Regions from separate parts of the Homo sapiens genome. Here region 1 is linked to region 2. The links come from fine-mapping of genetic effects on gene expression. A gene starts in region 2. The other region holds a variant in brackets. All regions are shown on one strand. Distances are between the middles of the regions. Region 1 has its middle 6.9 kb from the start of NUCB1-AS1. Region 2 holds the start of BAX (BCL2 associated X, apoptosis regulator).

Region 1 (2,856 bases), 29 kb before region 2:
TGCAGTGAGCCGAGATCATGCCACTGCACTCCAGCCTGGGTGACAGAGCGAGACTCTGTCTGAAAAAAAGAAGGCTGAGGCAAGAGGATCACTTGAGCTTAGGAGTTTGAGACCAGCCTGGGCAACATAGCGAGACCCCGTCTCAGAAAAAGAAAAAAAATTAGCTGGGCATGGTAGTGTGTGCCTGTAGTCTCAGCTGCTTAGGAGGCTGGTGTGGGAGGATCCCTTGAGCCCTGGAGTTTGAGGCTGCAGTGAGCCATGATCTATCACTCCACTGCACTCCAGGCTGGGTGACAGAATGAGGCCCTGTCTCTAATAGAAAAAAGAATAAATAAAAATGAATTATGATAAAAACCAAGATGTCCCAAGGCAGGATGACTTCAGGGAACCAGGTTCTCGCATCCCCTAGCTGTGCCAAGGATAGGTTTGGGGGCTGGACCCCCCCTCATGGTCCCAAGGTAGCTGCAGCTGCTCCAGATGTCACCAACAGCCAGTGAAGGAAGAGGCCGCATTCTGTTCTGGGCATTGTTAAGTGGGAGAAAATCTGTCCCCAGAGTTCCCTCTCCTTTCAGCCCTCTCCTCATGTTCCCTTATATCCCACTGGCTGTGAGGCACAGGTCAGTGACAGCTGCAGACAGATCCACCAAGCTGGCATCCACCAGTGGTGATTTCATCCTCACCTGGGATGGGGATGCTTTCCTTGGACCAAGTTGGGGTCTGGTAAAAAGCAAGCGGGGAATATTTGTTTTTGTTTTGTTTTGTTTTTGGAGACAGAGTCTTGCTCTGTCTCCCAGGCTGGAGTACGATGACGCGATCTCGGTTTACTGCAACCTCTGCCTCCTGGGTTCAAGCGATTCTCCTGCCTCAGTCTCCTGAGTAGCTGGGATTACAGGTGCCCAGCACACACCCGGCTAATTTTTCTGTATTTTTAGTAGAGATGGGGCTTTCACCATGTTGGTCAGGCTGGTCTTGAGAACTCCTGACCTCAGGTGATCCCCCCGCCTCGGCCTCCCACAGTGTTGGGATTACAGGCCTGAGCCACCACGCCCGGCCAGGAGTATTTGTTTAAATGAAATTCTGGCCAGGCACAGTGGTTCATGCCTATAAGCTCAGCACTTTGGAGGCCAGGGATGGGCAGGGTGGGGG[G/T]TTTCAGGAGAGGATGACAGGAGGATGACTCAAGCTCAGAGCTCAAGACCAGCCTGAGCAACATAGCAAGACCTCATCTCTAAAAAAAAAAAAAAAAAAAAAAAAAAAATTAGCCGGGTGTTGTGGCATGCACCTGTGGTCCCAGCTACTCAGGAGGCTTAAGGACAGAAGAATCGCTTGGCCACAGAAGGTTAAGGCTACAGTGAGCCATGACCACGCCACTGCACTCCAGCCTGGGAGACAGGGCAAGACCCTTTCTCGAGAAAAATAAATAGGCCGGGCACAGTGGCTGATGCCTATAATCCCAACGCTTCAGGAGGCCAAGGAGGAAGGATCCTTTGAGCCCAGGAGTTTGAGGCCAACCTGGGCAATATAGGGAGACCCCATCTCTATGTAAAAAAATAAATAAATAGGGCCAGGCGCAGTCACTCACAACTATAATCCCAGCACTTTGGGAGGCTGATGTGGGCGGATCACTTGAGGGCAGGAATTCAAGCCCAGCCTGGGCAACGTGAAACCCCGTCTCTACAAAAAAATACCAAAATTAGCCGGGCGTGGTGGTGTACACCTGTAATCCCAGCTACTCAGGGAGGCTGAGGCACAAGAATCACTTGAACCTGGGAGGCAGAGGTTGCAGTGAGCCAAGATCACACTACTGTACTCCAGCCTGGGTGACAGAGCAAGACTCCATCTCAAGAAAAAAAAAAAAATTAGCTGGGTGTGGTGGCACATGCCTGTAGTCCCAGCTACTTGGGAGGCTGAGGTGAAAGGATCGCTTGGGCCTGGGAAGCGGTGATTGCAACGCTGCACATCAGCCTGGGTGACCAAGCGGGACTCTGTCTCAGAACAAAACAAAACAAAAATACATATTCCCAGATCCTGGAATGTCCTGGGAAGCTATATGTGTGTCATGCCCTCCCAGCTGCACCTGAACAATGAGCATAGCAAACATCAGCTGCAGCCTCTCTTTGCCTCTCTCAGAAAATGAGGGGAGTTGAGCTTCAGTGACCCAATCTGGAAAACGGGCCTAAATGGTGTTCTTTGAAAGGTTCATATAGGCAAAGCGGTCCCCAAATGCCGAAGGAGCCAAGAAACCAAAGAATGAGGCCGACCCATCTAGTTTGTCAATACAGGGTGGTTTATTAGGGGGAAACTTAGAGTGTGGTCTTCGCCAGGCATGGTGGCTTATGCCTGGAATCCCAGCACTTTGGGAGGCCGAGGCAGGTGGCTCACTTGGGGTCAGGAGTTCGAGACCAGCCTGACTGACATGGTGAAACTTGTCTCCACTAAAAATACAAAAATTAGCCAGGTGTGGTGGTGGGCGCCTGTAATCCCAGCTACTGGAGAGGTTGAGGCAGGAGAATCACTTGAACCCGGGAGGTGGAGACTGCAGTGAGCCGAGCTCACGCCACTGCACTCCAGCCTGGGCTACAAAGCAAGACCCTGTCTGGAAAAAAAAAAAAAAGAAGTGTGGTCTTGGGCAGCAGCAAGACAGATAGATCACACCCTGCAACCCCCAGACACAGGGCTTCTATCTCGAGGAAAGCATATCTGTGCTCTGGAAGAAACGCGTAGGTGGCTATGGGCGATACATCTTGTGATGGATGTGACAACATCAAGGCTTGTTCTGGAGGAAAGGCTGGTAAGTACGTGTTTCTACATAAAGAGTAACACATCCGTTAGACATGTTGGAGGCATTCCCAGTTTCGG
Region 2 (2,869 bases):
TCAAGTCCCTTCTCTGACAGGCCCAAACCCTTTATCATCTGATCCTAGCTCATTTTTCTGAGTTTTCCTTAGTTGCTATTATTTTCTGTCTAAAGTGACATGTCATAATATTCATAAAGCACACAAGTCTTATGTGTACAGCTCAATGAATTGTAAATATGTGTATACCCGGCCGGGCACAGTGGCTCACGCCTGTAATCCCAGCACTTTGGGAGGCCGAGGCAGGTGGATCACTTGAGGTCAGGAGCTTGAGACCAGCCTGACCAACATAGTGAAACCCCATCTTTACTAAAAATACAAAATTAGCTGGGCGTGGTGTCGCATGCCTGCAATTCCAGCTACTTGGGAGGCTGAGGCAGGAGAATTGCTTGAACCCGGAGGCAGAGGTTGCAGTAAGCCGAGATCGTGCCATTGCACTCCATCCTGGGCAACAAGAGCAAAACTCCGTCTCAAAATAATAATAATAATAATAATAATAATAATAATAATAATGTGTATACCCATGTAAACACCATTCAGATAAAAATATGGCATATTTGGGGCACCCGGGGAGTGTCTCTTGTGGCCCCTCCCCTCCATACCCTGCTGATCTATCAGCACAGATTAGTTTCTGCCACTTTTTAAACTTCATATTCCTTTTCTTTTTACACAAACACAAACATTCGAGTCATGACTGGGTGGGGTGGCTCAAGCCTGTAATCTCAGCACTTTGGGAGGCCAAGGTGCGAGGATCGCTTGAGTCTGGGAGTTCAGAGACCAGCCTGGGCAACATAGAGAGACCTCATCTCCACATAAAAAGTTTTAAAAATTAACCAGGGGCGGTGTAGTCCCAGCTACTCAGGAGGCTGAGGTGGGAGGCTTCAGCCCGGGAATTCCAGACTGCAGTGAGCCATGATTGGGCCACTGCACTCCAGCCTGGGCAACACAGTGAGACCCTGTCTCAAAAAAAAAAAAAAAAAAAACAGGAAAAAACAAACAAACAGAAAAGCAGGCCTGGCGCGGTAGCTCATGCCTGTAATCCCAGCGCTTTGGAAGGCTGAGACGGGGTTATCTCTTGGGCTCACAAGTTAGAGACAAGCCTGGGCGTGGGCTATATTGCTAGATCCAGGTCTCTGCAAAAAACAAAACCACTCAGTTTTTAGTCATCTATAACGTCCTGCCTGGAAGCATGCTATTTTGGGCCTCTGAGCTTTTGCACTTGCTAATTCCTTCTGCGCTGGGGAGAGCTCAAACCCTGCCCGAAACTTCTAAAAATGGTGCCTGGATAAATGAAGGCATTAGAGCTGCGATTGGACGGACGGCTGTTGGACGGCGCCACTGCTGGCACTTATCGGGAGATGCTCATTGGACAGTCACGTGACGGGACCAAACCTCCCGAGGGAGCGAGGCAGGTGCGGTCACGTGACCCGGCGGCGCTGCGGGGCAGCGGCCATTTTGCGGGGCGGCCACGTGAAGGACGCACGTTCAGCGGGGCTCTCACGTGACCCGGGCGCGCTGCGGCCGCCCGCGCGGACCCGGCGAGAGGCGGCGGCGGGAGCGGCGGTGATGGACGGGTCCGGGGAGCAGCCCAGAGGCGGGGGTGAGGCGGGAGGCAGACGGGCGGGAGGAGGGCGAGCCCCCTCGCCGGCCCGTCCGGGATCCTTCCTACCGGCCTGGGGCTGTGCGATCTCCAAGCACTGAGGGGCAGAAACTCCCGGATCGGGCGCTGCCAGCCTCCAGTCCCCTCCGTCCTCGGAGGTTCCTGGCTCTCTGATCCCCGTGTCCCGATCCCTGCCTCTCTGGCGCTCTCGGACCCTCGAGAACCAGGGGATCTCGGAAGCCAAGCCCCCGGGCAGGCCCGGGCTTGTCGCCCGCACCACTTCCTGCCTCTGGCACTGGTGGGAGGGGCGGGTCTCGCCTCTGCCCCCTCAGGCCAGGGGTCTGGATGCATATAGCGTTCCCCTAGCCTCTTTCCCCGGGGAGAATGTAGGATACAGGCCCAGCCTCCTGGCCTTTCTCCATCAGGGACTCAGTTGTCTGGGCCCCCCCGTCACTTTATCTGCTAGGGTCCCAGAAGTCCAGGGTCCCCAGCTCTGTCCTCCCTCAGGGGCCGTGAGTCTCCACAGTCTCCTGATCCCCTAGAACCCAAGAGTCCAGGTACCTCTTCCCTTCCTTTCTCCTCTAGGGCCCACCAGCTCTGAGCAGATCATGAAGACAGGGGCCCTTTTGCTTCAGGGGTGAGTTTGAGGTCTGATTATTGTGGCACAGATTTGAGGAGTGACACCCCGTTCTGATTCTGCACCCTCACTCCATCCCCACTCTAGTTTCATCCAGGATCGAGCAGGGCGAATGGGGGGGGAGGCACCCGAGCTGGCCCTGGACCCGGTGCCTCAGGATGCGTCCACCAAGAAGCTGAGCGAGTGTCTCAAGCGCATCGGGGACGAACTGGACAGTAACATGGAGCTGCAGAGGTGTGGGCCCCTGAGGACCCAGAAGTCCAGCCACTGGGCTCCTTCAGGACACAGGACTCTCAGCCCCGCATTCTCCTCCTCCCCTAAGAACTAGGAGTCTGGGCCCCACAACTCAGCGCAAACATTCCGGACTCCCAGCCCTCCTCTCTGCCAGGATCTTAAAACCCTCCTTCAGGGAGTCATTTTTCCCACCTTCCTAAATGTCTGTCTTGTCCCCTTCCCTTGTCCCCCGTTGGCCTGTTGCTTTTCATTTCAGCCTGGCTTGGGGCTCAGTCTCCTTATCTTTAGTGTGCGGTGGATGCGGGAATTTTCCACCATCAGCCTGATGCCTGCTCCCCGGCACTGGTTCTCCTCTCTCCTGCAGGATGATTGCCGCCGTGGACACAGACTCCCCCCGAGAGGTCTTTTTCCGAGTGGCA

The links.
Region 1: its variant is fine-mapped to the expression of BAX in esophagus mucosa (GTEx, PIP above 0.99).

The regions. Positions count from the first base shown.
Region 1 is chr19:48,924,345-48,927,200 of GRCh38, forward strand. No RefSeq gene overlaps it. Among named protein-coding and RNA genes, the nearest start is that of NUCB1-AS1, 6.9 kb to the left of the region's middle. RefSeq lists a silencer at 2,568-2,856. The variant G/T (reference allele first, on the strand shown) is at 1,147.
Region 2 is chr19:48,953,384-48,956,252 of GRCh38, forward strand. It overlaps BAX (BCL2 associated X, apoptosis regulator), which reads left to right and starts at 1,492. Exons shown (of 6, transcript NM_138761.4): 1 at 1,492-1,579; 2 at 2,165-2,216; 3 at 2,304-2,450; 4 at 2,815-2,869. The coding sequence starts at 1,546. RefSeq lists enhancers at 1,171-1,739, 1,740-2,307, 1,757-1,966 and a silencer at 1,487-1,636.